Regions from separate parts of the Homo sapiens genome. Here region 1 is linked to region 2. The links come from fine-mapping of genetic effects on gene expression. A gene starts in region 2. The other region holds a variant in brackets. All regions are shown on one strand. Distances are between the middles of the regions. Region 1 holds the start of CHST4 (carbohydrate sulfotransferase 4). Region 2 holds the start of ZNF23 (zinc finger protein 23).

Region 1 (16,298 bases), 63 kb after region 2:
TCCCTAATACATTAAAGAAAAAAAAAATTAGGCCGGGCGCGGTGGCTCACGCCTGTAATCCCAGCACTTTGGGAGGCCGAGGCTAGTGGATCACGAGGTCAGGAGATCAAGACCATCCTGGCTAACACGGTGAAACCCCGTCTCTACTAAAAATACAAAAAATTAGCTCGGCGTGGTGGCGGGTGCCTGTAGTCCCAGCTACTCGGGAGGCTGAGGCAGGAGAAAGGCGTGAACCTGGGAGGCGGAGCTTGCAGTGAGCCAAGATCGCGCCACTGCACTCCAGCCTGGGCGACAGAGCGAGACTCTGTCTCAAAAAAAAAAAAAAAAAGAAAAAAAAAATTAATCCAAGTGGGGGTGGTTTTAGGTGCTGCCTCTTTATCTTTTGCTTAGATTTTGGAAGGGTTTAAAATTTCCCTCCTTGCCTTTAGATTCTCTAATCTTGTATCCGACGTTAATTAAGCACCTACTGTGTACTAGATGCTGGTGCTGGGGGCACAAAATGGAAGACCCCTATAGTCCTATAGGGAGGCATATATGTAAACGCATGTGCATCATTACAGAGGTTTGTACAATTTACTTTGGGGGGCGAGGAGAAAGAACTGGCACGGGGAGAAGGGAAGGTTGCACAGGAAAGGCATATCTGAACAGGGTTTAGAAGGCTGAATTTTTGGCAGGTGGAATGGGAGTAAGGTGGGGAGGAGAATATTCTAGAAGAAACAGCAGGTCTTAGAGAGGCATGGAGTGTGAAAAGACGTGCTTCTGTGACTAACATAACAAAATAATTTGGACAAAGTTATTTATCCTTCCTAACTCTTAAGTTCCTCTTGAATAAAAAGAAATAGTGACAGCAATATAGCAATGTGTCCAATCAGTGGATTATGAAACACACTTCAAAGGCAAAATGATATCCTCACACCCAAAAGGTAAATGCTATCATAACTCGGGTGAACTGTGTTCTTGGAAAGGGAGCTTAAAACAGTTTATCCCAATGTTGATTCTGGTTTTGGCTTCATGGAGTCTCATTCATTCTTACTTCTGACCTCTACCCCTACTGTAATTATTTTTTCAAGGAACTGGACCAACAGGACCCAAGGGAGAGTATCAAAGGCAAAACAAAGGAAAATGAGGACAACCCAATACTCAGAAAAAAAAACGAGTAATTCATGGATTCACAACGGGCAACAAACTAGATGACTATTAGGAAGAGAAGAGCAAACCTTATGATCTCAAAATGATTTCTTGTTCATTTGCATCCTCGCATCAATCTAGACTTTAAGAAATATGTGATTTTTAAATAAATGGGTATATCTGCATAATAGTGTTTTGGCATTAAATTATTTGATATGACTATTAAACATGTTTCTGCAAAAACCACTTCACCATACTGCTAGAATCTAGCAGCTAGATTGACCCAACACTTCATTATGTCATTCCCTTGCTCAAAGGTTGAAAGCAACCAGATGTGGTGGCTCACACCTGTAATCCCAACACTTTAGGAGGCCAAGACAGGATGATCACTTGAGCCCAGGAGTTCAAAACTAGCCTGGGCAACAAAGTGAGACCTTTTCTCTACACAAAATAAAAACACATAGTCCCAGCTATTTGGGAGGCTGAGGTGGAAGGATCGCTTGAGCTCGGGCGGTCAAGGTGGTAGTGAACTGTGATTGCACCACTGCACTCCAGCCTATATAACAGAATGAGCCTGTCTTAAAAATAAAAAATAAAGTTGTAACTATTCTCTGCTAAGTAGAATATAAAAATGCCCTAACCTTACACTCAGATTTCCACAATTAAGCTCTATTCTGCCCCCTATCCACACCCTTTTTCACTATTGCTCTACAGAAACCCTCTTCTTTGACAAAATTAATTTTCTTAGTGTGCCTCAAACACACAATCCCATGTGAACACTGACCTTTCATAAAGATGATATTCTCGCCACCCCAGCCACATACTTAACTAGGCTACTAGATACATGTGTCCTCTGTGGTCTCCTAGTGGAAATTCTGTTTTTAATGTTAATACAAATAATTTTTTAAGCAATGCAAGTTTCTTGACATTGTTTAGGAAACGTCAGTGGTTAGAGTGATTTAGTATTGCGTACTGAAAATAATAGAAAAAATATCGACACTGAGTCATATCTACTTCTTTACCTTCGACCTTTTAAAATGTACTTGTGGGATTTAGATTATCTTTGGATTGAACTATACAATACAATAAAATGTAAAATTAAGTGCCCCATGTTTGAGAGACAATCATTGTACTTGAGGTAGAAAAGTGCTTTAAACAGTGATGAGACTTGGTTTTATATTGTCGCTTCACATATGTTTGTTGGACCAGGTTTTCTGTGGGTGCGTGTATTTGATTACATTGTTTAGTTATAGGGAATGTGCACCTGTTTTTTGTTGTTGTTGTTGTTGTTGTTTTCAGCTGGGCGCAGTGGCTCACGCCTGTAGTCCCACCACTTTGAGAGGCCAAGGTGGGCAGATCACTTGAGGTCAGGAGTTTGAGATGAGCCTGGGCATCATGGCAAAACCTTGTCTCTATTAAAAGTACAAAAATTAGGCCAGGCACGGTGGCTTACGCCTGTAATCCCAGCAGTTTGGAAGGCCAAAGTGGGTGGATCACCTGAGGTCAGGAGTTCAAGACCAGCCTGACCAATATGGTGAAACCCCATCTCTACTAAAAATAGAAAAATTAGCCGGGCGTGGTGGCAGGCACCTGTAGTCCCAGCTACTCAGGAGGCTGAGACAGGAGAATCGCTTGAACCCGGGAAGCGGAGATTGCAGTGAGCCAAGATCACGCCACTGCACTCCAGCCTGGGCGACAGAGCAAGACTCCATCTCAAAAAAAAAAAAAAAAAAAAAAAAAAAAGCTGGGCAGGGTGATACACGCCTGTAATCCTAGCTACTAGGGACGCTGAGGCATGAGAATTGCTTGAACCCAGGAGGCAGAGGTTGCAGTGACCTGAGATCATGCCATTGCACTCCAGCCTGGGTGACAGAGAGAGACTCTGTTTCAAAAAAAAAAAAAAAGTTCCTTTTTAAGGTTGAACAAAGGCTCATTCATTCCTTCCTTTCCCAGACTTTCACCAAGCGCCTTCTATGGGCCAAGCATTGTGCTACGTGCTAGGTATACACAGGCAAGAGGTAATATACACAGATAAAAGGTGATTCTCTCCCAACGTGAGTTGGGAAGACAGACATGGCTAAGGCTTGTGGCTATGCTGAAGGGACTCTGCAACAATTTTCTAAGGCTACTATAATGCTGAGTAACAACCAGCCATGAAACTTCAGTGGTATACAATAAAACCTCATTTCTTGTGCATCTAGGGTGGTTGCTTAGGTAGTTCTGCTGATTTGGCTTGGGTTCACTGAAGTGTCTGGTGGTTAGCTGCCATTGGCTGATCTAGGATGGCCTCAGCTAGGACAACCATGGTAATTTGGATGTGCTTCCCGTGCCTTTCATCCAGCAGGCATGATCTCACGGCAGTGACTAAGACACAAGAGCAAGAACATGTCCAACTGCACAAGTTACTTTAAAGCCTCTGCTTAAAAACATCCCAACAGGCCAGGCACGGTAGCTCATGCCTGTAATCTCAGCATTTTGGGAGGCCTAGGCAGGCAGATCACTTGAGGTCAGGAGTTCAAGACCAGCCTGGCCAACATAGTGAAACCCTGTCTCTACTAAAAATACAAAAATTAGCCGGGCATGCTGGCACATGCCTATAATCCCAGCTACTGGGGAGGCTGAGGCGGGAGAATTGCTTGAACCCTGGAAGCGGAGGTTGCAGTGAGCCAAGATTGTGCCATTACACTCCAGCCTGGGTAAAGAAGCGAGACTCCATCTCAAAAAAAAAAAAAATCCCTACAATCAAAGCGAGTAGCATAGCTGAGACCCCAGGCAGAGTTATATGTCATAGGGCATGGATACAAAGATGGGAGAATGGAGGTCATCATGGCAATCTGCCATGAGCTCTGAACACACAGACCAGGGCACCTAACTCAGCCTAGGGACATAAGGAATGGTTTCCCAGAGAAGGTGATGCTGACTTGAGTTGAATCTTGAAAGAGAAGACGCAAGTTAACCAGGCAATAAAGCAGAGAGGGCGCTTTAAGCAGAGCAACCCACATGAACCAAGAGCTTTGGAGACTGAAGTGCTTCCACGTCTTTACTTTATGTGATGCATATGCCCTGCAGCTATTAACCTTTCTGCAGTTTCCTGTCTGGAATGTAGATGTGAGCCCTAGATGTGCACAGCTGTCTCCTGGCCATGAGGCAATAAGCATGAAGTTGATGGTCTGTAGAAATAAGTCACCCAATGGCATTCTTGAGCCACTGTATCCACCCCAACTGTATGACTACATGACTTCATGTCACACAGGTCAGCACCCAGGAACTCCTGTGATATCCCCTGGAGAACTACCTAGTCCCTCAGTGCTCCGTGATCTATCTCTTCTTTCTCCCTCAGTCAAGACTCTTTCTCTCTCTCTCTCTCTCTCTCTCTCTCTCTCTCTCTCTCTCTCTCTCTCTCTCTCTCTCTCACTCTCTGAGATGGAATTTCACTCTTGTTGCCCAGGCTGGAGTGCAATGGCATGACCTCAGCTCACCACAGCCTCCGCCTCCCAGGTTCAAGCGATTCTCCTGCCCCAGCCTCCCGAGTGGCTGGGATTACAGGCATGAGCCACCACACCCAGCTAATTTTGTATTTTTAGTAGAGATGGAGTTTCTCCATGTTGGTCAGGCTGGTCTCGAACTCCCGACCTCAGGTGATCCGCCCGCCTTGGCCTCCCAAAGTGCCGGGATTACAGGCATAAGCCACCATGCCCAGCCCAAAAATCTTGTTCCTTCAACCAAGCTGACTCCAGATGCTTTGCATTGTTTGGAGAAGTGGTGATGCAGTTTCTCAATGTCTAGAGTTTCAACAACACCCCTACCCTGGCCTCCACGTCACCATTGCCAAGAGTAAAGAGAGAGCACCCCAGCCTCTTCCAGCAGGTACTTCACACTGCCCTTCCCCAAGTTTTCAGTTTGGCCACCACTATCTTCCTGGAGGCCATCATTATCTGTTATTATTTCCTTTATCCTGGTTTATGCCAGTCACACAAGTAGCCCAGGATCCTCAGTTGTTCCTTATCCCTTGTGTTTCATCCCAAATGGCTCCAAATGTCTCATTTTCTGACCCCATTTCCCACCCTCCCCATCCCGACACCCTTGTTGGGATCCACAAAATCCATCTTTTCTCGAAGTGTCTTAATTTCCTCTTCACTTTCTTGCTCTAAAGGAAACTAGGTCTCCCTTGAAGACACTGCTTTCTCTGCAGTCCTCTCAAGTGGTGGCTGTTTCTTACACTCCACAATGGAATAAGTTTTCTTGTTCCTCATTGCTGCTTCCAGATTATTCTGGCTCCCTCCTTCCTAAACATTTCCAGCTTTCACTCTGATATTAACCAGACTATATGGCCCTCATTACAGTCATATGACCCCTGCCACTCTCCAACTCTACTCCTGGGACAATTCTACATGAACTCAATATCCTTAGAGATGATACTTTCAAAGCCCTGATGTCTCAAATCCTTGACCTCCTCACTCCCAAAAAACTTGCCCTCCAACTTAGTTCAGCTATAATCTTTCTGTCCTTCTTTCTCCTCTTAACCAGCTTAGATTCCATGGTTCATTATCATAATTACACCTTTGAATATCCCCTAGGCTCCCTTGCCTCTCTAATACTTCATTGTACTCTTCCAGAAAAGCAGAGGTCTTACTTAAATCTAACTCTCCACTTATCCCCACACAAGTAGTAGTAGCCGAACAGGGCTGGAAAAACTACACACCTCTGCTATCTGCTTTCATTTTAAGTTTATG[A/G]CCACTCACCTTCGGCTTCACTCATCTATCTTACCTCATTACCCTAGCATAGTCACTAACGTATCCTCACAGGTGGCCACTCCATATCTTCCTCTCTCTTCAGGCTTCCATTAACTCCTTCCCCATCCTCAGACTCAGCTGACAACCTTATCCCCTCACTCACTAGGAAAATAAAAGCAATAAGAAGGGAGTTTCCACAAATTCCCAGCACATCATCTACCCACCTACCTGCAACCTCCACTCCCTGAGTTCAAGCTATTCTCCTGCCTCGGCCTCTCGAGTAGCTGGGATTACAGGTCTATGCCACCACACCTGGTGGATTTTTGTATTTTTAGTAGAGACACGGTTTCGCCATGTTGGCCAGGCTGGTCTCGAACTCCTGACCTCTGGCGATTCACCCACCTTGGCCTCCCAAAGTGCTGGGATTACAGGCGTGAGCCACCACACCTGGCCGAGAGACACCAACTCTTAAAAGGTGCCTAACTAAGCATCTCGAGGAATTTGTACTGTGTCTCTAATGAGCTCTTTTGTAGCATTTTCATCAGGGAAATGCTGGGGATCAGATCCATCCTAGGAAAGATCATTCTAGCTGCAGCATAGAGTGGGAAGGCTGGAGGGCATAAGATTGGGGATATGGGAAAAAGTGAGAGACTGTTGGCAGAAATTCAAGCAAAAAAAAAATTGAAAGGCAGACTGAAGACAGGGGCTGTTGACATATAAAGGAGGGCAAATTTGACAGCTATTTAAGGTTATTTTACCTTTAGACAGACATTGGTGATCAATGTGATACATGAGGTGACAGTCCACCGGAAGACACACTGATAGTCTCCCCAGATTTCATCCCCAGAAACTCCCTGACTAAATCATCACGGGTCACCTGAAGCAGTCTCTGACAGTTTTTGGAAGACCAGAGGTAGAATTTCAGGAGCCTGATTCCAGATAAAGCCACAATTATGCAGCAATGTTATGTTCCTGAACCATCAAAGACATATAAGGGATGCCTGAGTTTTACTAGGAGCTCCTGGCTCATTATTTCCTATTTTCCCATCCCCTCTGCCCTTCAAGGGAGCAACAAAAAAGCAAGAACCAGTGAAAAACTTAAAACTGTGTTCGTTTTTTCCCTAATCTATTCTAGTCCAACTTATTCTCCCACTGTTGAAACAAATATTTCTAACACAGATAAGGGACATCGTATTGCTGGGGGATTCCCTACACAGATGTCCACCACCAGGGCCCAGCTCAAGGAAGCAAGTTCTACTGAAAGCAATTACCCATTTGATAATAGGATTTACAGCAACCAAGATTTCCTTCCTGGCTTGCAGACACTTCTTCCGAAGGCGCTGGCTCCCTGTGATGCTAAGATCCAGTCTCTATAGACTTCAGAAACTTAGCCAAACTACAAAGCCCTCCAGAATCTATTCTCTAAACTCAGCCACTTAGCCAGTGACCTACTCAGGCCAGACACTGGCTTTGGTAAGCAAAACAGGGCTGGTGACCAATGTAGGGAGTGACATGTTCCTCAACAGTTTCAGGCCTGGACATCTGCATTGCAGGCTGATGCTTAGCGTAAAAAAATGAGGAATGCTAGAGCCCCCATAAGAAAAGAAACTCAAGGAAGCATCACTGTCCTTTCAGTGTCACTAGGGACAGAAAAGATATGTAGGTAAGTGTGGAAGTGAAGAAACTGCAATCTCATTTGGAGTGATGGTCAGGGTAAGGTAGCAGGAGTAGGTAGTATAACCAGCAGAAAGATCCTTTTGACCCCTGAGAAAATCAGAGTCTAGGTCAGTAGCTGACCCCAGGTCTCTTCACCACTCAGGTGGGTCCCCAGACAGTAAAGATGGTAAACTTCCAAGGGCAAAGATGAGATCAGCGACTCCGCTGAATAGTGGTCCCCAGGAGACAATTGTCTAAATCACTTCAAGTACACACAGCCTTTTGTACGGATTTTAAACTTGGGATTCCTTGGCATTGCACATGATTTTGTGTTTGTATATGAGCAATTGTACATTTTTCTACAGAGGTCTATATCTGTTATCAGATTTTGGAGACTCAAAAAGAAAAAGATTAGATCTCTTACTTGACTGCACGATCCAATATGGTTGCACTAGCACGTTTCAGGTGGACAGTGGCTACTGTATAGTGCAGATATGGAACATTTCCATCATCACAGAGACTGTTATTGGACAGTGCTGCCTTAGAGACGTGGGCTGCAGGACTTCCACAAGAAGGCCTGGATATCAGACACCAGCATTCAAATTTCTTCCCAGTGCTGTGGAATGTGGTAGACCCTTGGAAGTCCAGTATCTGAACATGCTGGTCACCACCGTATACTAGTGACCAGAGGATGCCTTTCTTCAGCTGCTTGGCATTCTGCCAGCATGAATTCCTAGCACGGGAAAGATGGCAGGTGATCTGAATTACTTGGGGTTATGGTGTATTTGAGTGACCTCACTATATTTGGGAAGGCGCTGGAAAAACACGAAAAGAATGTTAGAAAGGGCTGGAATAAAACTACAGGAGTCCCCTCTTTATCCACGGTTTTGTTTCCCAGTTTTAACTACTCATCATCAACCACGATTTGAAAATATTAAATGGGAAAATTACAGAAATAAACAGTTCATTTATTACATACTATTCTGAGTAGCATGATGAAGCCTTGTGCCATCTCGCTGTGTCGTGCCAGCACCTGAATCATCTCTTTGTGCATAAAAGCAAAACTACCGACTGCCCAGTTCTAGTGCTTCCAGTTACACCTCTGCCCAAAGTCCTTCACTGGAGGAAGAGAAATTTCTCTTCTCTCTGCCAGAGAGAAACAGGAAGGGAGGAAGAGCCACACAATTGAAATCAAGTCAAGGCAAGCACCACAGGTTCTTGTCATTTGTGCTTAGCGGACTTAGCTGATGGAAATCGGCAAAGATCATCCCAAAGCTCACACAACTCCCTGCCTGCTCTCTCTCTCTTCCAAGGTCTGGAAAAGGAAGTGGCAGCTGAGTTGCGGGGGTGGGTGGCGGTGGGAAGGTATTATTATTCAACCACTTTTTAACTCTTATATTGTCATATTATTGTGTTAGGAGCTTCATACGCATTAATCCTAACATTCACAACAATACTGTAAAATAGATATTGTTACCCTTATTTAACACCGATGATATTCTAGGGCTCAAAGAGGTGGTATGACTTGCCCGGCAAGATCTTGGACTTGAAAGTCTGAGGCTTCCATTCTCCACCACAATTTACGTTTATTCACGGGCATCCATTGTTTCAGACTCATGACAACCGTGTAAAGTAGCACGGAGTAGGTAAGTGATTTGCCCAAGGGCACACAGCAAGGGAGAGGTTGTAATCTTTAATGATAATTTGTTTCTTTTTTTCTTAAAGGGGACTTTTTTTTCTCCTGTACCACCAAGCCAGTACATCTATGTCCTCCCAGAAAATATTTATTACCTCTTGTAGCAAGGGTGAAGATATTGAATACAACACAGAGGCTGAGAAATGTTACCTCCCTAGACCCAGGGTGGAGTGAGCAGGCAGGTGTAATGCAAGAAATAACTTTCACATTTTCTCCTTGGAGATAAGAACAAGGTCTAAAAATCAGGTTTGAGATTTTGTAGCCTTTCGGCTTGTAAGTGTCATGAAATTTCCCTATCAGCCTCATCTACTAGCTCCCTGGGTCTCTCTCTCTCTCTTTCTCTTTTTCCCCACCTCCCCACTCTGCCCATAGGGAGTTGACCTTCACAGTTGCCTTTCAGTAGTCAACATGCCAGGATGCCTCCAGTCTGGGGGAAAATGCTTCCTCATTTGCTTCTCCCAGCCCACCTCAAGCAGTCTCCCCACCCCTTGAGTCTCAGCAGTGTTAAAGCTGTTACTTTCACAGCTTCCTGGGAGCGAGTGCTTTCTCAAGCCCGTCTTGCAAGGTGGGTCCTTTTTTGTTTTTGGCAGAAGGGAGGGACAGTGAAATGTGCTCTGAGTAGGGACGGTTATGCAAAAGCAAGTAGGAGGAGGAAGCCAAGAGGGGAGTTGGTGAGTCAGAGGAGAAAAGCGCATGGCCCGGCTAGCAGTGAGCCTCTCAAAAGCAGCAGGGAAGCCCAAGCCACAAGGTAAGAAGAGAATTTCTGTGTACGACTCCAATGCAGAGCCATTACCCAGAGCTGCTGGAGCAAGAGTATCAGATAACCTCTGGCAGCTAAGCTAGAGATTACAGTGGCGAAGGCGGTTTGCGCAGAGGGGATAAATCAGATCACCTGGGGAATTTTCTGGGTAAAATAAAACACAAGCTGCTTACCAGCAGCCCCCAAGCCCCACTAGCTCTATCCCTAAATGGGTCCAAAAGAGCCCAGAGAGCAGATCAGGCTGTTCTGATGTATATTTTGTAGATGGTCCCCTGGTGCCAACTGACTCGTTCAGATCCTGGCTTTGGAGCTCAAATTTCTGTACTTCCTGCAGCTTCTCCTCTGTTTTCTGCTGGGGAGTGGAAGACAGGAGGTGCAAGGAGCTGTAGGTTTTCTCTAGCTCAGGAGAGGGACAGTGTGATCATTGAAAATTCTCAGCCCTGGGATCCCCAAAACCTGGGTTCTGATCCAGAAAAGGCTATTTATACCGGATGAGCCAGTCAATTAAAGTTTAGTTTATTTATTCTGAAAAATGAAGAAATGTCTCATCACTGTCTAAAATATCTAACCGATCAGTATCATAATTGCAGCTAAAAGGGCTTTAAAAATGTGGAACACCACGCACATGTGCAATATGATTAAGTTATGGTGCCAACATATCAGCTATGGTAGAAGATACGTCTATCTTGCATGGCCTTGGACAAGTATGAAACTTCTAATTGGAATTGAAATACTTTTCTATGTGTAAAATAAATGTAATATTGTCGATGAAAAGAGTCAGACTCTGTGACATATTTGAAGAGATTTATTCTGAGCCAAATATGAGTGACCATGGCCGGTGACACAGCCCTCAGGAGGTCCTGAGAACATGTGTCTAAGGTGGTCGGGGTGCAGCTTGGTTTTATACACTTTAGGGAGACATGAGACTTCAATCAAATACATTTAAGAAATACATCTAGCCAGGCGCGATGGCTCGCGCCTGTAATCCCAGCACTTTGGGAAGCTGAGGCAGGTGGATCACCTGAGGCCAGGAGTTCAAGACCAGCCCGGCCAACATGGCGAAACCCTGTCTGTACTAAAAATACCAAAAAAATTAGCTGGGCATGGTGGCAGGCACCTGTAATCCCAGCTACTCAGGAGGCTGAGGCAGGAGAATCGCTTGAAACCGGGAGGCTGCAGTGAGCCGAGATCCTGCCATTGCACTCTAGCCTGGGCAACAAGAGCAAAACTCCATCTCAAAAAAGAAAAAAGAAAAGAAAAAAGTACGGGTCTGTCGCCCAGGCTGGAGTGCAGTGGTGCGATCTCGGCTCACTGCAACTGAGAGGAAGCCTTCAGATAGCAGGCTTCAGAGAGAATAGGTTGTAAAATGTTTCTTATCAGACTTAAGGTCTGTGTTGGTGTTAATGCTGGAGAGGTATGATGAGGCATGTTAGATCCCCACTTCTTGTCATGGCCTGAAACAGTCTCTCAGGTTAAATTTTAAAAAGACCCCTGGCTGGGCACAGTGGCTCATGGGTGTAATCACAGCACTATTAGGAGACTGAGGTCACTTGAGGTCAGGAGTTCGAGACCTGCCTGGCCAACATGGCAAAACCATGTCTGTACTAAAAATACAAAAAATTAGCCAGGTCACTCGGGAGGCTGAGGCAGGAGAAGCGCTTGAACCTGAGGAGTCGAGGTTGCAGTGAGCTGAGATCGTGCCACTGCACTCCAGCCTGGACAACAGAGCAAGACTTCATTTCAAAAAAAAAAAAAAAAAAAAGAGTCCTGGCTGAGGAGGAAGTCCTTTCAGATGGTTGGGGGGCCTTAGAATTTTATTTTTGGTTTATAATATCTTGCTCAATCTTCCTTTCTGGGTCTCATATAGTAAAAAAAAAAACACTGTACAAATATATGTTCACTTGTCATTTGTTGAAAGATGTTCCTTGAGCACCTACTATGTGCCATGCACTGTCCTTGGCACTAGTGACACAGCCCTGGCGGGACCCAGGTCCAATCCTCCTGACACTGTCTAGGAAGAGTTTGTTATATGGACACCCTTTACCCAGGTGCCTAGCTTCAGAGGTTTTCCAGGTCTTCAGGCTGCTTGTGAGGATGCCAGTTTCCCCAATCCAACCCCATTCTCTCTCTCTTTGCTCAAGGTATCTTCTGCTGTATCTAATTTCTACTTGTAAGGGGCATAATCTCATGGGAAGTGTAAGTTAGGAATGCATCCAGTGGCTGGAACCCAGACTTCTTAAATTAGTATCTATCTGGTTTTTTTCCCCCTCAGAATTTCCCATTTTGTCTCTACGAGGCTACATGGTACCGATTTGGGGGACATCTATAATTCAGCCCACTCTAATCAGCTGCTGCTTGAGGTCACCCATCTGGCACCTTCGTGGTTCCTGTGCCAAACATAGATTCTCCCTTCTCACCACCCTTTGGTGGCGTTTTCAAGTTCCTAAGGTTCTCTTGACTCCTCAGAAATGGCTGTCCTTTGTGTTTTAAGATGATACCGTTCACCCATCGTTGGGGCAACATTTTTTTAAATTAATTTTTTGGGGTGGTGATGATGGAATGTGCTGAGTTTGGGTTTTTTGTTTTGTTTTTGTTTTTTGTTTTTTTTTTTTTGCTTTTGCTTTGTTAGCCTAGTAACTGAGCTGATTCAAGCAAGGTAGCCTATCACCCAGCAATGAGGCTTTTATTTTTTAAATGTTTTCTAAAACTAATTTTCATACAGGAAGAGAAAAATAATTTCCCTCCTGGTTTTAATTAATGCATGCTTGGTATAGTAACTGTTTTTTGGACCAAGGGTTACTGTGCCATACTGCATCTAACCCATGCCTCTGACTTTATTAGTAGCTTGGTCCAAGTAACTGAGACGGCATGGGTAATGTGCTCACTGTTCCATGCAATCACCTAAATTTTAGTCACTGATGCTGAAGAGTGTCCGTGTGCATTTCAGAAAAGGATACTTATGTTTCATTCTCTTGAAGGAGCTCCTTTAGTTTTCTGCTTTCTAGCAATTACTGTGCCTCTTCCCATGCTCATCTATTTTTTTTTTTTTTTTTTTTTTTTTTTTTTTGAGACCAAGTTTCGCTCTGTTGACCAGGCTGGAGTGCAGCGGTGTGATCTTGATCAGGAGATCAAGCCCACACTCATCTATTTACTCACTTACTCATTTATTTAGCAAGTGTTTAATGAGCCGAGCCCTGATCATTTGTAGAATTGTTATGTACGTGTAAGTAAGATAAGATACAGCCTTTCCCTTAAGCTATAGTGGCCCAGAGAAAAGAGAGGCACCCATACAGGCTTTTACTGTCAAAAGGGATGGCTGCTAACAGAAGGTCTGGGAAACAAATTAATCTCAAGAGGGGGCTGGGCGCGGTGCTTCACACCTGTGATCCCAGCACTTTGGCAGGCCGAGGCGGGAGAATCACCTGAGGTCAGGGGTTCGAGACCAGCCTGACCAACATGGCGAATCCCCATTTCCACTAGAAATACAAAAATTAGCTGGGCGTGGCTGTAATCCCAGCTCCTGGGGAGGCTGAGGCAGGAGAATCGCTTGAATCTAGGAGGCAGAGGTTGCGGTGAGCTGAGATCATGCCACTGCACTCCAGCCTGGGCGACAGAGCAAGACTCTGTCTAAAAAATAAAATTAAAAAAAAAAAGTCTCAGGAGAAAGAGACAGAACTTCTTTCAGGGAGAAGGCAGGCTCTCCCTTTCAGGGAGAAGGCAGGTTAGATTCTTGAAGGAATAGTAGCTGTCCTGCAAAAATCTCAGGGCTTTTAAATAACAGGGCAAGTTTGGAAGAACTGAAAGTCGGGAGCCTAAGGCACTAAAACAGAAGGGAGTGACAGGAAATCAAGACCAGGCCATGAAGGACCCCAGGTGCGAGGTGTGGGGATGTTTATTTAATCCCATATACACTGGAAATTTATTGAAGGATTTTTAAGCAGGAAGTTGATAGACTTATGCTTTAAAAAGATATTTTGGCCAGGTGCGGTGGCTCACACCTGTAATCCCAGCACTTTGGGAGGCCAAGGCTGGAAGGTGGCTTGAGGTCAGGAGTTTGACACCAGCCTGGGCAATATAGTGAGGGCCAGTCTCTAGTAAAAAATGAAAAAATTATCTGGGTGTGATTGGACACACCTGTGATCCCAGCTACTGGGGAGGCTGAGACAGGAGGATCGAAAATCACTTGAGCCCAGGAGTTCAAGGCTGCAGTGAGCTATGATCATGCCACTGTACTCCACCCTGGGCAACAGAGTGAGACCCCCGACTCTAAAAAAGGAAAAAAAAGATTTTGGGCCAGGCGTGGTGGCTCACACCTGTAATCCCAGCACTTTGGGAGGCCGAGGCAGGTGGATCACTTGAGGTTAGGAGTTTGAGACCAGCCTGGCCAACATGGCGAAACCCTGTCTCTACTAAAAACACAAAAATTAGCTGGGCACGGTGGTGGGCACCTGTAATCCCAGCCACCTGGGAGGCTGAGGCACAGGAATCACTTGAACCCAGGAGGCAGAAGTTGCAGTGAGCTGAGATCACTGACAGAGTGAGACTCTGTCCCAAAAGAATAAATAGTAATTTAAAAAAAATGAAAAAGGTAGTTTTTGGCAGCAGTGGGTCATGGGGAGATGCTGAGAGACAGAAGAGAAAGGTCGATGTCAAAGGCCACCCTAGACACAAACAGCTGGGAATTCTGGCAATGGGAGAGTGGGATTCGAGGACACTATTGAAGAGTCTCCTTCCATGAAGCGCCCTGGTGACTCGCATCACCTCGCTTCTGCCAGGGCCCAGGAGCATCTGCCTCTGCTGCTCATTACAGTCTTCAGAAATGAGTTTTGCCCAAGACACATCCTAAAGTATCCCCTGGCTCTCTGGTCAGCCCATTGTGTGTCGTCTAGATCCAGATGTGTCTTGGGGCTCAGTGACAAGGGATGGGACTTGCTTCACAAAAGCTACGCTTTCTACCCAGGGCAAGTGCTCACAGAAAGAAAAAGAAGTCAGAGGATTTCCATGGGAGTTCCTGAGAACCGTGGACAACTAACACCTGGGAACAACTGGGGGCAGTTAGGAGGCCCAGCTCCAGCTTGGGGAGGAAACGGGCTTCAGGCCAGCAGCAGTTGGCAGGCAAGGAGGGTCCAGAGTCACCAAGCCCCGCACAGGACACAGAACTGGCCCCAAGCAGGATGGAGGGAGGGAGGGTGTCACTTTGAAAGGTCTATTCTCCTAATCCCTAGGAAATGTTAGCTTTTTCCTAATTATAAGCCCTGCTTATAAAATTCTATCACCATTTCCTTATAACTGTATACAGGATAAGTTCTTCTCATTTTCCTCTCTTTTTGGTTTTGCTCCATTGCTTCCTATTTTTGTTCCAAACTTTTTCTCATACTCACATTGCCCTTAGGAGAAGCTCTTTTGCTAAAGTCACCTCTTCAGTCTTTGCGGGGAGGGAGGACATCCTTGGGCCAAGATCAGTAATAGCTTAGTTTCTAATCATTTTCCTCTTGCACTCAAGTTTTAAGAACTAGCAGCACATCTTAGCTGGTCCTGTTGTTTTTTTTTTTTTTTTTGAGATGGAGTCTCGCTCTGTCGCCCAGGCTGGAGTGCAGTGGCGCGATCTCGGCTCACTGCAAGCTCTGCCTCCTGGGTTCACGCCGTTCTCCTGCTTCAGCCTCCCGAGTAGCTGGGACTATAGGTGCCCGCCACCACGCCTGGCTAATTTTTTGTATTTTTAGTAGAGACGGGGTTTCACCGTGTTAGCCAGGATGGTCTCGATCTCCTGACCTCGTGATCCACCCACCTTGGCCTCCCAAAGTGCTGGGATTACAGACGTGAGCCACCATGCCCGGCCTAGCTGGTCCTGTTCTAATCTGCAGGGCTAAGACTACAGGGCAGGAATTACCAGTCATTGACATTTTCTGCCGTACAGCAAGTGATTTTCAGCCATGATGATGAGATGATCCTCATTGGATCTTTTTGGCACATCCAGAGGAAAAGCACTGTTATTATGAATGGAAGATAAGGGGTTTTTCTGCTATTGCCACCCAAGGTTTGGCTTGAGTCATTACATACTTCCCAGAAGGTTCAGGGGACTTCCAAGGAAAACCCACGAGCTGGCAAAGCATGCTTTCCCTTCAGGAAGAAAGCTATAAATGCCAAGAGTCTCCTTTGTGGCTACCCAATTTCTCTCCTAAAATCTACTCTCACAGGTCTCTGGAGCCCTGGACGTAGAGAATAGTTTCTGATCAGTATGAAGGCTACCTTCATACATGTGTGATCTTACATACATGTGTGACGGTGTGTGAACATAAAGGTCATCACTGAAGCACTTGAAATG
Region 2 (16,298 bases):
CCCAAAGGGATACCACTTTTTGACCTTGGCCTGAAATAATCCAGAGTACACTGAGATCCTTGAAAAGACTCAAGACAGGTAAGATGAGGGGGCAACTGAAGATGCCACTGTGGAACAGGAAGCAACTGGATTCCAGTGTTTCCAAAACATAGCTTTCATGGGTTGGATCAACAGTGCATACCAGTTCCAAGCAAAGTCCTATATAGGCCTACAAAAGGCTTGGCATTTGCCCCTGCCAGTAACCTCTAAGTCTAGATTAGGAACAGCTCTGGGGTTCTCACTCAGTAAAGGATTACCAGAGATCCCCTCAGTAACCTGTAAGGGAGAAGCAAGCCAGGAACCCCAATTGGCAGATTCCAGGTTCCCAGGGTAGAGAGGTCTTACCCAGGGAGGCCACATTCCCATAATTCTCCAGCATCACATCCCTGTACAGGGTCCTCTGTGCAGGGGACAGGCCATCCCATTCCGCCTGGGTGAAGTACACAGCCACGTCCTCAAAGGTCACCGACTTCTGAAACAATAGGTTCCTGCTGCCCTAGGGCCAATTCCATAGCTCAGGCCCTAAGTGAGGGGCAGAGCGCAGTATAAGGGCTTGGGGAGGGTGCTTGTGAGAGCACAAAATTAGTATTAACAACAAGGGGAAGATCTCAGAAAAAAAATATCGAGAAAGTAAACTACAAAGTATCCACATTCTCCCACAGCAGGGAAACCTCATGCCATTTTTCACACAAATAAGAGGTCACATTAAGACAGGCTGAAAGAAAAAAATTTCCATAAGCAAATTCTCTAAAGCCAACTCCACTCTTTTAGATAAGCTGCTCCCTCCCAGCAAACTCGGGGCTGATCCACCAGCAGGTCCCACACCACTCCCCTGCGCCTAACCTCAGCCCTGTTCTGCTGCCCACCCATCGCCCTCATCCTCACAGCTCAAGCCACCCCCAAAGATCATCCACGGCTTCTGTCTCATCCAGCCCCACCAGATTCCCTTCACAGACCCCCCAACAAGGGGCTGTGCAGCCTCTGCTTGAGCACCTCCAGCCAAGGATGCTCCATGCTGCCCAGGCTGCAGGGTCTTCCTGGAAAGCCAGAATTTTCCTTACCCTCTCCCATTCAAGTCTCATCCTTTCCAACTTCTCCGAAAGCTTCACTGTTTCTCCAAGAACATTTGGGAAAGCAGGGAGACCGGCCTTCCCACTGGCCGGCTACTCTCCCCTTTGCATCACTAAGCTATGTGGTTGGCACAAGCTCCACCACTCAGGGACGCTTCGTGTCACTCCCAGGCCCAACCACCCCTCCTGGGCAGCTGCAGCCTCTGGGAGGCTTACCCTCTGCCCACCTCAGCCTGCTCTAACAACCATGGGGGCTCACTGGCAGGGATCTGCTGCTCAACTCCTCTCTGCTAGGATGTGTCTTCCTGGAATTTACTGACCTCCACCCATCAGCAATTCTAGTCCAACCTTTAGGTGTTTCTGTGAGCCTTCTTTGTGTGACCTTCAACAAGTAACTTCTCTGCACAAAATATAATGTCTTCACTGTGTGCCGCCACCACCACCCTGGTAAGTTGGCACTTCCTTCTGAACTTACACTTCAGCTGGGGTCAGAATCACCCTCACAAGAAACCTCAGCCAGAAACCTGGGGATTGTTCTTGACTTCCCACCTTCCTTATCACCACAAATCCTTTGAGTCTCTATGTCCGAAAGATTTTTTTTTTTCTTTGAGTTGGAGTCTCGCTCTGTCACCCAGGCTGAAGCGCAGTGGCATGACCTCGGCTCACTGCACCCTCTGCCTCCCGGGCTCAAGCAATTCTCCTGCCTCAGCCTCCTGAGTAGCTGGGACTATAGGCATGCACCATAAAACCCAGCTAATTTTTCTATTTTTAGCAGAGACAGGGTTTCACCATGTTGGCTGGGCTGATCTTGAACTCCTGACCTCAAGTGATCCAACCACCTCAGCCTCGCAAAGTGCTGGGATTACAGGTGTGAGCCACCACACCCGGCCATGATTTTTCTATCTTAAGCATTACTTGAATTGGATCCCTCTTTAATGATGGCTTTCCTTGATGAAGCCCATGTCACGGGACCAGTGGGATTCTTCTTTGTGAAGTGGTCACCGTGCTTTTGAATCTTCCTTACAAATTATTCCATACACATCACAAATCTGACCAAGTTAACATCACTGGTTCCACAGCTGTCTTATGGCTAAGCAGTTCTGAATCACACAATAACTCTGTGATCCTGGGCAAGTTACTCTACTCCCCTTTTGCCTTTTCTTTTTAGGTGGAAAGAGTACAACACAGCACTTATCACAGAGGCGGTTGTCAGGACCAAACGACCATACAAAGGGCTTAGTATGGCTCCTGGAGCATAGTAAGCCTCCAAAGATACAACTGGTGTGACTGTGGACTGTTCCCAACCTGTAGTCCATGGAAGTCCATGGATGAGCTTCAGGGGATCCGTGAAGTCCCTGAAAATGTATGGAAAATTTGGTTTGCAGGTTTATGTTCTGCAGGTTCCCCGCACAACACCTCTTTCCTGCAGGACAGGGTGGAAAGCTCTTCTCAGAGACCTAAAGTCTGCATCCTAAACTTTGAAAGCTTCACAAGCACAATGAGACATTCCGTCCCATGTGACTGTCTTCCCCCTCCCTTGACTCCACTCCCTGTGACCTTCCCTTACCCCTGAATTAGAGGCACGGCCATCCTTCTCTGATCAGGTCCTGCTATTCCTCTTCTCTACATCCCCACCACAGATAGTCCAATCCTCTGCGACTGTGCTCCACTGACACCCCTGCACAGTACATCCCACAGGGGCGGTTTCCACGTCCCCATTCACCCAGAGCCCTATGCTGGGGGTGCTCCTGTAGAGAGGAGCAGAGACCCTCAGTGTGCAGAAGACCACCACCCTCCTGCTCTCCTGCTCACTCTCCCGCTTCCTCCACTCGCTACTGTCCTGGTCTCTGCCGCCCTCCCTGCACAACACCTCTTTCCCACAAGTTCCAGTCCAGCAGGTGGAAGCAGCTGTCATCCCGAGGCTCACCAGCTCCCCTTCTCAATGTTTTTCAATCTGAAACTGCCCAGAGGAAGAGCTGAAGGACCCCACAGCTCACCTGGGGCCAGGCTGTCAGGTGCATGGCTGCCATCCCCTGGTCCCCGTCTCAGAGAAGGGCTGGAGCTAAGGAGAAACACAAAGAGAGACAAGTGTGAGGCAAGCCACCCCAACCAGAGCAACATAGCCCCTCACAGAAAATGCAAGACACAGGCAGCTTGCATCCAAATAGGAGTGCGAACAGGAGCTGCCCAAGAAGGGAATGATCTGTTCACTGGCTCAGTGCCTAGGACTCCAGGCTATGACACTGAAATTCACTGCCAGGAACCCTAGGACTTTACAATTCTGATACATATCACACACACTGAAGAGTATATATATAAAATTTAAAAATAAACAAATAAAAATTAAAAATAAAAAGAAGAAGAAGAGTGCATATAAAACCTGCTGGGCACGGTGGCTCGTGCCTATAATCCCAACAGTTTGAGAGGCCAAGGCGGGTGGATCACTTGAGCTCAGGAGTTCGAGACCAGCCTGGACACATGGCAAAACCCTGTCTCTATAAAAAATACAAAAATTAGGCTGGGCGCGGTGGCTCAAGCCTGTAATCCCAGCACTTTGGGAGGCCAGGGCGGGTGGATCACAAGGTCAGGAGATCAAGACCATCCTGGCTAACACGGTGAAACCCCGTCTCTACTAAAAATATAAAAATTAGCCGGGCGTGCTGGCGGGCGCCTGTAGTCCCAGCTACTCGGGTGGCAGAGGCAGGAGAATGGTGTGAACCCGGGAGGCAGAGCTTGCAGTGAGCCAAGATTGCGCCACTGCACTCCAGCCTGGGCAACAGAGCAAGACTCCGTCTCAAAAAAAAAAAAATTAGCCAGAGGTGGTGACACATGCCTGTGGTCCCAGCTATTCGGGAGTCTGAGGTAGGAGGATCACTTGAGCCCGGGAGGTCAAGGCTGCAGTGAGCCAGTATCACACCACTGCACTCCAGCCTGGGTGATGAGAGTGAGACGCTATCTCAAAAAAATAAAAAATAAAAATAAAATAAAATGTATGCAGAGCCTAAAAAATAAAGCAAAGAGTCATGTATCCACAATTCATTTCAAGAAATAGGACAATACCAAGATCTTTGACTTATTTCTCTTTCTCAACACAAGCATTATCTTCAGTATCACAGCAGGAGAAGCTGGACTGGCTGGGCTGCAGCCCCAGTACACAAGCCTGGGGAGTCAGACCCCAGGGAGGCAGCGCCTGGAGAAGGCAGCTGCCCCCCAGTATCCTGCCCCACTTCCTCAGAGCTCTGAATGTCCTCAAGAATCCTAACACCTCTGGAGAGGTCTTGAGAGGTCAGTCCTCCTAAGGACAGCACAGGCTGTCCTTAGGAAGCTGAGCTGGAAGTTAGGAACCAGGCTGTTTCCCAAACTTTCCAGTCTTCTGATAGTGAATGAGCCAAGGCCTACACTTCTGCGTCAGCTCCTGAGAGAGGAGATCACTGTAGCAGCCAGTCCCGTGACCCAGAGCCTCTTGTTCACTGTATTCAAAAACATATGGACTAGTGATTTTCTGACTTTTACTGCCCCTAAAGTCAGTCTTGAAATTACATTTTCCTAAAATATCATCCATTTCTTCCAGGATTTCAACTTTACTAGTACAGAGTTGCAGAAAATACTGGTTCATGATTCTTTCCATTTCCTCCATATCCAGAGCTAGTTTGCTTTTCCCACTTCTTCTTTTGAATATATGTGCTTTCTAGACCTTTTTCCCAGGGTTAGAGTTAGAGACTAAACATTTATGCCCCTGCCAAATTCATATGTTGAAGCTCTAGCCTCCAATGTGACTGTATATGGAGACGGGGCCTGTCAGGAGGTTACAAGGATAAATGAGGTCCTAAGGGTGGGACTAAAGGTCCTAAGGTTAAATGAGGTCCAATAGGGGTGATGCCTTTACAAGAAGAAGGAGAGACCCAGAGCCCACGAAACCACTCACTCCCCGCCTCCCCCATGTGAGGACACAACGAGAGGGCTACTATCTATAAGCCAGGAAGGCAACCCTGGCAGGAGCCAAAATCAGCTGGCACCTTGATCCTGGACTTCCAGTCTCCAGGACTGTGAGAAATAAGTATGTTGGTGAAGCCACCCAGTCTATGGTATTTTGTTATGGCAGCCCAAGCAGACTAATACAGTTAGGCTGAGCAGTGTTTTACTTATTTTAATGTGGTTTCCTTTTATTTTCAAAGAACCAGCTTTTCTAGTTGAGCAACACTACTTTCTTCTATTTGTTTTAAATTCACTAATTCTGCTCTTAGTTTGTTCCTTCAGCTCTGTAAGGGGCAGTGTAAGCACCACTCCAATCCTCTTATCCCATCCTCAGTCCAGTTCTACAGAGGTTAGTCAGCTTTGTGAAGCTGCAAGCTACCAGAACCTTCACAAGGACCTACATCACCTATGCCTGGTTCCTGCCCTGGGGCTTCTCTGGTGTCCTATGTGGGACACCTGTGGACACCTGCTGGGCCCTGAAGTGCAGAGGCATTAACACCTGTGGGACCCCCTTGACCAATAGGGGAGAGAAACCAATGGATAAATGTTTTCCCCGTCGATCCCCCAGCGGGGCAGCCTTAAGACTCCAAGGCTCCTCAAACGCCCTGCAAGGCAGAGCCTGTTGAGGGCCGAGCATACCAATGCATCCTTGTACCAGTTCTCCCATCTCTGTTTCACTCCCCTTGTCTTTCACTCTGCCCCTGTGACCATATTCCTAAATAAATTCCTACATACAAATCTTTGTTCCACGTTCTGCTTTTGGGGAAGCTTAGACTACAAAAGGCTTTTTTCCCACCTTCTTGAGGTTGCATGACTTATTCATTTATTTTCATTCTTCCTATTTGGCAATTAAAGCCTATAAGGCCACAAATTTTCCTTGGGATACACTATTTGCCACATTCCAGAGGTTTTTATATTTCATGTTTTAATTACTGTTTTATAGTCAGTCAGCAATTCTGTTTTGTCTCTGACCTAGTAATTGCTTAGGATAGTTTACTGTTGCTAATTTCTTCTGTTTATAAGTTCTGGCTTTATTGCATGATGGTTATATAACCCAATCTACTAACTTCTACTTTACACATTTTTCAGGGTTTTTTTGTGACTCATGTCCATTTAAAAAAATATATTATCTGGTGTTTAAAGAGAAAACTTATTCTGTGATGGGAGAATATACAACTCCATTTTTAGATAATAAACCAACTCTACCAATTACATATGTAGTGTGATAGCTACCCCGCTCAGCTAGTCAAGGGTGTATACCTGCTGCCTGAACCTTGAAGACCGGGCAGTGAGTCAAGACCATGGGGCTCAGCAGAGGAGCAGGTGTTTGCAAGAACGTAAACATCCTAGAAAGTATATGAGAACCTACCAAGAAAAGTCTCATCGTTTAAATGCAGTAGGCAAACAGCCAGAAAATTCTCTAAAAAGTACTTAGAGACGAGGGGCATCACAGGTCTCTAAAGCTGTCCTGCTGCCATCCAGGAGTAAGTATGTAAGTCCTAATAAACTCATCTACTTGCCAAGCTGGACTCGTCCAAGGCATTCTTTGGTCTCTTGGCTCCCTCCCAAGGGGATAGTTTTTTTTTTTAAATACGATTCCAGGTTTTTTCCTGTTATGACATTATATAGATTTTCTACATAATCCTTGATTACTTTTACCTAATTAAACCAAGATGGCCAGTGAAGAACTAACTCTCACAAAACACTGAGCTCAGATGTGTCATGAGCAAATTCTTTCAATGTTTCGGAAATGAGTAATTCTAACACTATGTAAACCGTAGCAGAGCACAGCAAAGTAAGTTTCCCAATTCTTTTTATGGTGCCAGCACAATACTGATGCAAAAACTACAGACCAGTCTCATTTATGAATTCTAATGCAAAAATTCTATCAAGGAATAGACTCCAATAGTTCATTAAATACATCATGAGTAAGTAGGATTATCCCACGAAGATACTAATTAGTATATTTTTCACATTAATAAATCAAAGAAAGATAAACACACTGTCCATCTCAACAGATGCCAAAGATGTTTAACATAATTCAACATTTGTGCCTAATTTTAAAAACTTACACACTAGAGAAACTCTCATATGTAGGAAGTACGTACAAAAATATTATCAGCACATTTTAATAACAAAACACTGAAAACAACCCACATGTCCATTGAAAATACATCGATAAATTTTCATACAGTTTTTACAATGGAACATTACCCAGAAGCTACACACAGAATGAATTTGGAAACTTAACATTGAATTATGCGAGTCCCAGATGACTTATACACACAATGGTGCCATTTATATGAAGCTCAAAAAAAAAATTTAAGTACATTGCTTACAGATACATGCATATGTAATTATTTTTTAAAATAACAGGGCTACAATTAACACAAAAGTCAATATAACTGTTACCTCTAGGGGTTGGAGGCTGGGAGTTGGGTTGAGGAGGAGGAACACATTGATAAATTCAGCAGTACTGGCAATCTTCTCTTTCTTAATTGGGTGGTGTGTTCATGGATGTTTACTACTATATATGTAACATATAAATATATATTTTAAATAAATATATAAACCAGCAAGGATGGGGTGAAATTGAGGACCCAAAATGTAATACAAAGAACAGCCAATGTGCTTAACTATACTACAGTGAACATAACCACACTTAAGTGGTAGGAAAGAAAAGGGGTAAGCAACTTTGGAAAACAGTATTTTGACTAAATACCATAAGAGTAAAGACAAAAAGACCTGTATCCAAGTACTGTACTTTAGGTAGTAAATTTGCTTTTCATGGGGGTATGAATTAGCGATTCTGAGACTACTAAATATATTCTAAAACTGAGTGAATTCGTAATTACGTTGTAGAAGTCATTCCCAGGTCACTGTCAACCCTGAGCCGAGAGAAGCAGGGCTGAGTTACCTTTTGGGACTGACACTGCTCCAGGAGACAATGTCCTCCAAAAGCCGGGCTGCTTCTGCTGCCGGGTGACTGGGAGGGGCTCTGCGCTCCCACTCGGCCCTAATTCATGACCCTATGTCAGGAGCCTGGGAGCACACGGTCCATACTCGGGATGCACATAGGTTAATGTTCCTGCCAGACCTCAGCATGTCAAAAGACTTGTGGTATCACCTCGGGCCGCTTCACGCCCGCAAATATTCCATCTTTTAGCTGCACCGACACATCTTCCCCCGTCGACCAAGTGCTAAATGCTCAGGGCCTCGTGGCTGGGACAGCAACGTGCGTTTCCCCTTCCAATGGGCGCAAGCTATTGAGCCACAAAGACCAAAGCTGGAGTCGAGGAGCGCGGAAGAGCACCCCGGGCCGCCGCCCTGCTCCCTCTCCCAGCCTGGGCCTCCTGGCAGCGTAGGCCACGGGAGACCCTGCAGCACCCAGGGTGGGAGTGCGTCTCAACCGGACCCAGAGCCTGGGGGACAGGGCACGGCACACAGCGCCCGGAGCCCTGCACTCACCTCCGTAGCGGACTGCTCCCCGGCGCTGCCGGAAGTGCGTCACCAGGCGGCCGGGCCTCTCTAGGAGCAAGGTCGCTGCGCCTCGGTGGTGGTCACGCCCGGCCAGCTGTGGCCGCATCCCTGTCGGCTAGCTCGGGTCTGGCCCACGGTGACTGTTACCCCTGGGGAATGGGGCAGGTAAGAATCAGAGCCAAGCGGGGACCCAGCCCGGGGAGGTGAAGCTGCAGGTGCAGCCACGTGTGGGAGTCTTGGAAATGGACCAGTGGATGGCGCGCTGTCACACCCAATGCCCCCTTTTTCTAACAAATAGTTTGTAATGTCCATCTTATTCTCCTGACCTGATATTCATATATAATGGCCTAGAAAATCATACATAACATACACACCTACATATTAAAAACTAATGTTATGCCTTAAGTGTAATGAAAGAGAAAAAAAAGAGGACCGTCATCTGTCGTTTAAAAACACATACTTCAATGTGTTTGGTCTTGGCTGCTGCAGGAGACCTAATAAGGTGGTCGCCTTTACACATAGACGTTGTCTGAGTGCCACAGCCACAAAGCTGTGACTTACATTGTTGCAAAAGTCACAAAATTATGATCCAAAATGGCAAACATGTTTTCGTGAAGTTCTGAATGAAACACAGGACAATCGTCTCTTGATTATACAATAATTACATTCCTGGAAGATCAGTGTATGTTAAAACTGTGCAAAAATACATGTTTATCCAGAAAACAGGTTTAGATTCAGATAATTTAGAAATAGAATTTTCACCTACCTGAATGTTCAGCAAGACATTTGAAAGTGTGAACATTTTTTCAGTGGGCAGGACTGTCCTGTACATTGCAGGATCCTGGCTCCTATCCACAACGCTAGTAGCAATGTTACCACTGACACCAAATATAACAAAATACCTACCATAAAATTCCAAAATGAGCCCTGGGGGAAGGGAGACAGTACTAAATGCCACTGGATTGGACGACCCTTAAAATCCCCACCCCCTCACACACCCCCTAACCCTGGTAATGTGGGCTTTTCTTCCTTCCAGCTCTGATCCATCCAACGCTGCTGCACTGGAGACTGGTATTTGGCTCCCACTTGCCTCTGTGGCTTCTTATCACTCCCATTCATTCCCTGACTCTACCTCAGCCCTACATGCTAAAAATGCTGTTCTCTAAATCTAGAATGCCCTTCCCTTCCCATTCCTACCCTCCATCTTGACTGTTACTGGAAGTGTGAGCTCAAATCCCATTTTGCATGGGAAGCAAGCCTTCCCTCATCACCCAGAATAAGGCAGGACACTCATTTATGTGCCATCACAGCACTGTGTACTTACTTAATGGTGATAGTTTATTTATATGTCTGTCTTCTCTGGTGGCTGCAGGGAACAGACACTGTATCTATCTTGTTCAACATCATCATCCTCAGCTAGAGAATAACTGGCAGAAAGAAGGAGAGCAATAAACATTTGTTGTTGACAATGGTCCAAAGGCTCCAGCCCTAACTCTTAGGCAGAAGCCTACTTTGTGTGTCCCCAAGGGTAGGATATGTCTTATGCCTTGGACCTTGACAGTGACCATGGCCAGGTGCCCTTCTCTGCCTTGCCCTGACCCTGATCTTCACTGTTTTCCAAAATGAGTTCATTAAGAAAATGATTGGGCAGAGTAATAGCTGGGGATTACGTTGCTCTTGTCAATAAGTTCTGGTTTTCACTTCTTTCTAGGGTCAGAAATCAGGAGTGAGGACTTGTTGAAAGAAATAGGAAGGAATCAGATCACATAAATGCTGGCCCCAAATGTTTGCATCATAAACCCATTGCCTAATTTTACAGTTGAGAAAATAAAGCTCTCTAAATAACCACAAAGCTCCTACTCCTACTTCAGACATATCAGAAAAATGAGATAATAATGCACAAACCAAGTTTCAAAAGCTCTATGGTAGGTCTGGAGAGATGGAGATCAGTTCTTGTCTGTCAGCCCCTGTTCTTCCATTCTTATAAGGTTACAGAATCTCTAGCAAGGGACATGACAGCTCAGGGAAAAAGCACACATTTCCCAGCATTCTTTAAGGCAAAGTGTGTCCATGTGACCAACTTCTGGCAAACAGGCTGTAAGAAAATGTGATGCTGTGTCCTTAAAGACAAGGGACATGCCCTCCCTGCCCCCAAACCTTCATCGACCAGGTGGAATGTTGACAAGGGAGAGCATCAGAGCATCTTGGACCATGTGAATAAGGGTGTGGCTGCTGGGGATGACAGAGCAACTAAAAGGAGGAGGCACAGAGCTGCTATATCAGCCCCAGATGGCTTACTTTCTGATGATACATGAGAGAGAAATAAACTTTCATCAAATTTAAACCACATTTATTTGGGTTCTTCAAATTAATTTCCAAGCCCATAGCCTAACTAATACCCCTAGAAATGAGGAAGGATGGAAAAATCACACAACACAAGAGTTAAAAAATTAAGCTGGCTCTTCGACTACAGCATTCTAGAAGTTCATTTCCATGCTGGGCCTGCAGCCATGTAGTGTCAGTTTCCTCCTGCTCAGCTCTAAGGCTTCTTCTCCTGCACCCTTTGTCCCTGCAGCCCCAAGACCTCTCTAAAGCCCTTCCTCTCTGACCACCAGGGAAAGCTGACAATCTTCTCATGTTAAAAAAAATCTTTTTTGTTGGCCAGGCGTGGTGGCTCACACCTGGAATCCCAGCACTTTGGCAGGCTGAGGTGGGGGGAGTTACCTGAGGTTGGGAGTTCGAGACCAGCCTGACTAACGTGGAGAAACTCTGTCTCTACTAAAAATACAAAATTAGCCAGGCGTGGTGGCGCATGCCTGTATTCCCAGCTACTCGGGAGGCTGAGGCCAGAGAATCGCCTGAACCCAGGAGGCGGAAGTTGTGGTGGGCTGAGATAGCGCCATTGCACTCCAGCCTGGGCGACAAGAGCGAAACTCCGTCTCAAAAAAGAAAAAATATTTCTTGTTGTTTCCAGTTTTAATAGGACAGAGTAAAGATGGCTTTGCCTGCTTCTTCTCATGAAAACTGTGGCAAAACAACTGTCTGGTTGATGTTCATTCCAGGAGTTCAAGGCTGTTTTCAGGCTACAAAATTTTTACCTACTTATTGATGTTGTGAGTTCTGTGAATAAATCATTTAATCTATGTGGAGAAATGTACTAGGGTAGGGCAAGGTCTTATTCTCAAAGCAACCAAACATATATAGGAATAAGTTTACTAATAAATGTATAAGACATATATCAAGAAAATTTTAAACATTTGGGGACTAAACCAATGAAAACCCCTTGTGTAAATGGAAAGGCACAGGTAATCCTTCAGTAGGAAGGGTAGTTTTCTTTATTTAATCCATAAGTCCAACGTCATACCAAATAAAACCCCTATAGGATTTGTTTTAAAACTTGTGAAAATGATTCTAAAATTTACGCAGAAAAAATGTTAGAAGTGACTGGACAGTGCCTCATGCCTATAATCCCAGCACTTTGAGAGGCCAACGTGGACAGATCACCTGAGCTCAGGAGTTCAAGACCAGCCTGGCCAACATGGTGAAACCTTGTCTTTACTAAAAATACAAAAATTAGCCCAGCGTGGTGGCGCACACCTGTAATCCCAGCTACTGGGGAAGCTGGGGCAGGAGAATTGCTTGAACCCGAGAGGCGGAGGTTGTAGTGAGCCAAGATCATGCCACTGCACTCCAGCCTGGGTGACAGAATGAGACTCCGTCAAAAAAAAAAAGAGAGAGAGAAGGAGAGAGAAAGAAAGAAAGAGAGAGAGAAAGAGAAAGAAAGAGAAAGAAAGGAAGGAAGGAAGGAAAGAAAATGTTAGATGCTTATAAGGTACTACTGAAACTTAAGAAAGCACAAGTATTGAAAGTCAAAGAATGGAAAATAGATATATCAGACAAGTATTAAGGGAAAGGGAAAATGGCACAGCTATATTAATATCTCACAACAATAAGTTTAAGACAATAAATATTACGCAGAATTCAGTTGAGGGCAATGTAGCAAATAATATAAACTAGAATCTAGAAATTTAGAATAAGATATAATATTCGACATCATTTTAAATACTTAACTCACAGGAAAGTGTACCCACGTACCAAAACCAAACAAGAAACTAAAACCAGAGGCATTGGTTTGGACTGAGGACCTCAGCTGATGCTTTGGCCAACAGGGGTGGGAATGGTGAAGAGTTGTAAGTCTTGATATCTGAGAAAGCAGAATTATAATATGCAGGAGGCATATTACAGGAACAAGGAATAGGAACAGAGACTTTTCTCACACACATACACTCATCCAATCATGAAAGGATAAATTTTTTAAAAATCTCATGAACAAAGAGAGATAACAAAGAATCTTATGGTCCTTGCCTAAGCTTTGAAGTGGTAGTAGAAATGTCTTCTAAAAATTTATAATCATAGTTTGCATCATTAAGTATAGAGTTTAAATTAATACTATCTACTTGGACCAGTAATTCATAATCCAAGAAATTACATTAAAAACTAATCCTGATAGACTTCTGAAATAGTCACAACAGAATTAGTAGGCAATGACATTTAAAAGTTATTACAACCATATCTGATACATCTAAAAGTTTGGTGGAGAAATGAAACATATAAAAAAGACCCAAATCAAACTTCTAAAGATAAAAACCTATAATGTGCAATAAAAATACATTGGATGGGATTAACGGCAGATTAGACATTACAGAAAAAAGATGAGTGAATTTGAAGACATAGCAACAGAAACTATTCAAAAACAAACACAGAGAAAAGAAAATTAAAAATAAATGTACAGGACTGAGAAGTCCTGATTTCTTCACCTACTAGCTATGAGACCTTGGACAACCACTTAGCTTTTCTGAAATTCCAATGATTCATCTGAAAAATGAGATAATAGTTCACAGTTGTTGTAAATACTACACATAATGTTTTGCTTAAAGTACATACAACAGGGACCAGGATTCAGTAGTTGCTCAATTAATGTTAACTTTTCCCCTCCTCTAAATTATTTGTGGACCTGATTACACTTTTTTATTTGTCAGTAATGAAGTTAGTAATGCATAAGTTTGTAAATATGACATATTATAAGTAGGAGAAAGACCTACAGTGCCAAACTCCTTCAAAGTTTTTTGTGCATAACCTCACAGAAACATGCTAACAACAATCAAGTTCGGAAGATTTTTACCACAGAGAAAGCAGATCCAATCCATTGTATGTTTCTGAAAATAGGTTAACAGGTGGGGGTTAGCACGTGAGGAGAGGGCATGAAAAAGAATCAAGCAGCCTGTCTCCAAATGAATACAACATACCTTCTTTCTCACATGTATTGCCTGATAATTTGCTTATATGTGCCTAGGAAGAGCCCTGAGCATTCTTCCTTACATAGTATGACCAGGTATTACACATTTTCCCCTAACTTGAAGGACGTTGGCCTCTGGCATAACACAATGATACTAGGTACCAATCCCATAGACCTCCCAAGGGAATCGGTCCAATTATCAGCTCTGATGCTGAAGTTTCTAGAAGGAAGAGAAAGAATCTCAACCCCCACCGTGTCATAAAGAACCTTGTAAAAGACTGCTGATTTTAGAGGATTACAATTGCCAGGTACACCGGAGTGGAAAGCCCCAAGAAATTAACAGTGACCACTACAACCTGTGTTTAGTGTCATCCAGGTACAAAGGACAGCAGTAGAAAACAGAGAAGCCGTGGTGCTGTCCAAGGTGCTAGCTCCGACTCAGTGGGGGGGGGGGGGGGGGTGTGTCTGTGGCGCTCTCCAAGGTTCTGGGGCTGGCCTCAGAACCATTGTCCTCCAACCTGGTGTGTTGGTCCCCTCTGACTATATATGTGTGTGTGTTTTTGAGGAGTCTCACTCTTGTCACCCAGTCTGGAGTGCAGTGGCACGATCTCAGTTCACTGCAACCTCCACCTCCCGGGTTCAAGCGATTCTCTGGCCTCAGCCTCCCGAGTAACTGGGATTACAGGCGCCCACCACTACACCTGGCTGATTTTTGTATATTTAGTAGAGATGGGGTTTCACCATATCGACCAGGCTGGTCTCGAACTCCTGACCTCAGGTGATCCACCTGCCTTGGCCTCCCAAAGTGCTGAGATTACAGGCATTAGCCACCATGCCCAGCCTCCCTCTGGCTATATTTTAAGCCTGATATCCAAATACTTAATCTCACCCTATTCCTTTCTTTGAATTCATTTGGTCAGAACCTGACACGTATCACCCAGTGCCCCAGTTCCTACTTGTCTTCTCTATCACTCTGCCTCAAAATCCAGAGATTCCAAGGATGATAATTTATTGTGGGCCCAAATGGCTAAGAGAGGCTCTTCTGGGAAGCTTTCTTACATCATATAAATTTTTGTTAACATGAATTATTTGTATTTGAAAGATTTAAAAGACAAGGAAGCTATGTATTGTTCTTGTTGTTAACAATAAATTACCTCAACACTATTTGAACATAATAAAAATGTAATAAAACCTGAAACTTCGTGTGTTCCAATTGCTTTATTCAACTAACTTACACTCCTTTCCTGGTGAGTTACCTTGCATTCAGGTGTTCTGAGCCATGAAAACATTTTTCTTTCTTTTCTCTTTTTTGTAGAGATGGGGTCTCGCTATGCTGCGTTGGCTGGTTTGGAACTCCTGGCCTCAAGGGATCCAACCATTTTAGTCTCCCAAAGTGCTAGGATTATAGACATGTGCCATGATGCCTGGCCCAAAGACATCTTTAATCTGAATTGCACTTCATTAACTATTAGACACATTTATGTTTATTATGTAATGCTTTCTTCACATCCATACTGAAGAAGATCCAGTAGGTATTATATCTATTTTATAGATGAAGAAAAACAAAGCTTACATGTTACAGTCTTTGTAGAACATAGACTGTAGTGGGGGACACAACTTTTAAGTAAATCCACACCTGGATAAATATATTATTGTAAACTTTCATTCGTGTGAGGGAGGTAAAGAGCAAGGTGTTTAGGAGATAATATCAAGGGAATACCATTTTAACTTGGAGGTAAGGAAAGGCCTGAGGAAGTGATCTTGATCTTGGGCTGAGACCTGAAAGATAAGAATGAACTATCTGGGCACATAATCAAGGAGACAGCATTCCAGGCAGGAGGAATAGCATGTGTAGGCCCTTCAGTGGAAAAAAAAAAAAAAAAAAAGCTTGACACATCATGGGGAGAGAGGAGGGAGGAAGTGCTGCGCCATGAAGTCATTAGAGCTTTGCAGGCCATGTTAAAGAGTTTGGATTTTATTCCAAGGTCAATGGAAACCCATTGAAATGTTTTAAGAAAAGCATGTTATGTTCCATATTTTTAAAAGCACACCTGGCTGCTGACTGGCAGATAGATTAGAAGGATTCAAGAGCAGAAGTGGGGAGACTACTTAAGGAGCAATTGTGGTAGTCTAGGAAAGAAATGTTGGTGGCTCAGAACAAGGCAGTAGCACCAGGAACTGGAGAGAAGCTCCATGTTGCTCATCAGTAACATGTTCTGTCATCATGTGCTATCATCTAGCATGTTGCTTAGCACACAGAAGTCACTAAATAAATATTTATTGCCAGGCACAGTGACCCATGTCTGTGATTCCGGCACTTTGGGAGACCAAGGTGGGAGGATTGCTTGGCCTCAGGAGTTCTAGACCAGCCTGGGCAACATAGTGAAACCTTGTCTCTACAAAATATACATAAATTGATGGGCACAATGGCTCACACC

The links. PIP is the estimated chance that this variant, and not a neighbour inherited with it, causes the effect. A credible set is the group of variants that fine-mapping cannot tell apart.
Region 1: its variant is the best candidate, but not a certain one, in a credible set for the expression of ZNF23 in blood mononuclear cells (TOPMed, PIP 0.60).

What each region holds. Positions count from the first base shown.
Region 1 is chr16:71,516,535-71,532,832 of GRCh38, forward strand. It overlaps CHST4 (carbohydrate sulfotransferase 4), which reads left to right and starts at 9,892. Exons shown (of 2, transcript NM_001166395.2): 1 at 9,892-9,961. LOC105371335 (a long non-coding RNA gene) reads left to right here. Exons shown (of 2, transcript NR_135172.1): 2 at 1,071-1,312. RefSeq lists an enhancer at 9,525-10,135. The variant A/G (reference allele first, on the strand shown) is at 5,862.
Region 2 is chr16:71,453,658-71,469,955 of GRCh38, forward strand. ZNF23 (zinc finger protein 23) reads right to left here and starts at 8,590. Exons shown (of 5, transcript NM_001381984.1): 1 at 8,553-8,590; 2 at 3,107-3,171; 3 at 385-511. The coding sequence starts at 3,139. LOC124903709 (a long non-coding RNA gene) reads left to right here and starts at 8,655. Exons shown (of 2, transcript XR_007065105.1): 1 at 8,655-9,635; 2 at 10,276-15,058. RefSeq lists enhancers at 8,189-8,278, 8,549-8,708.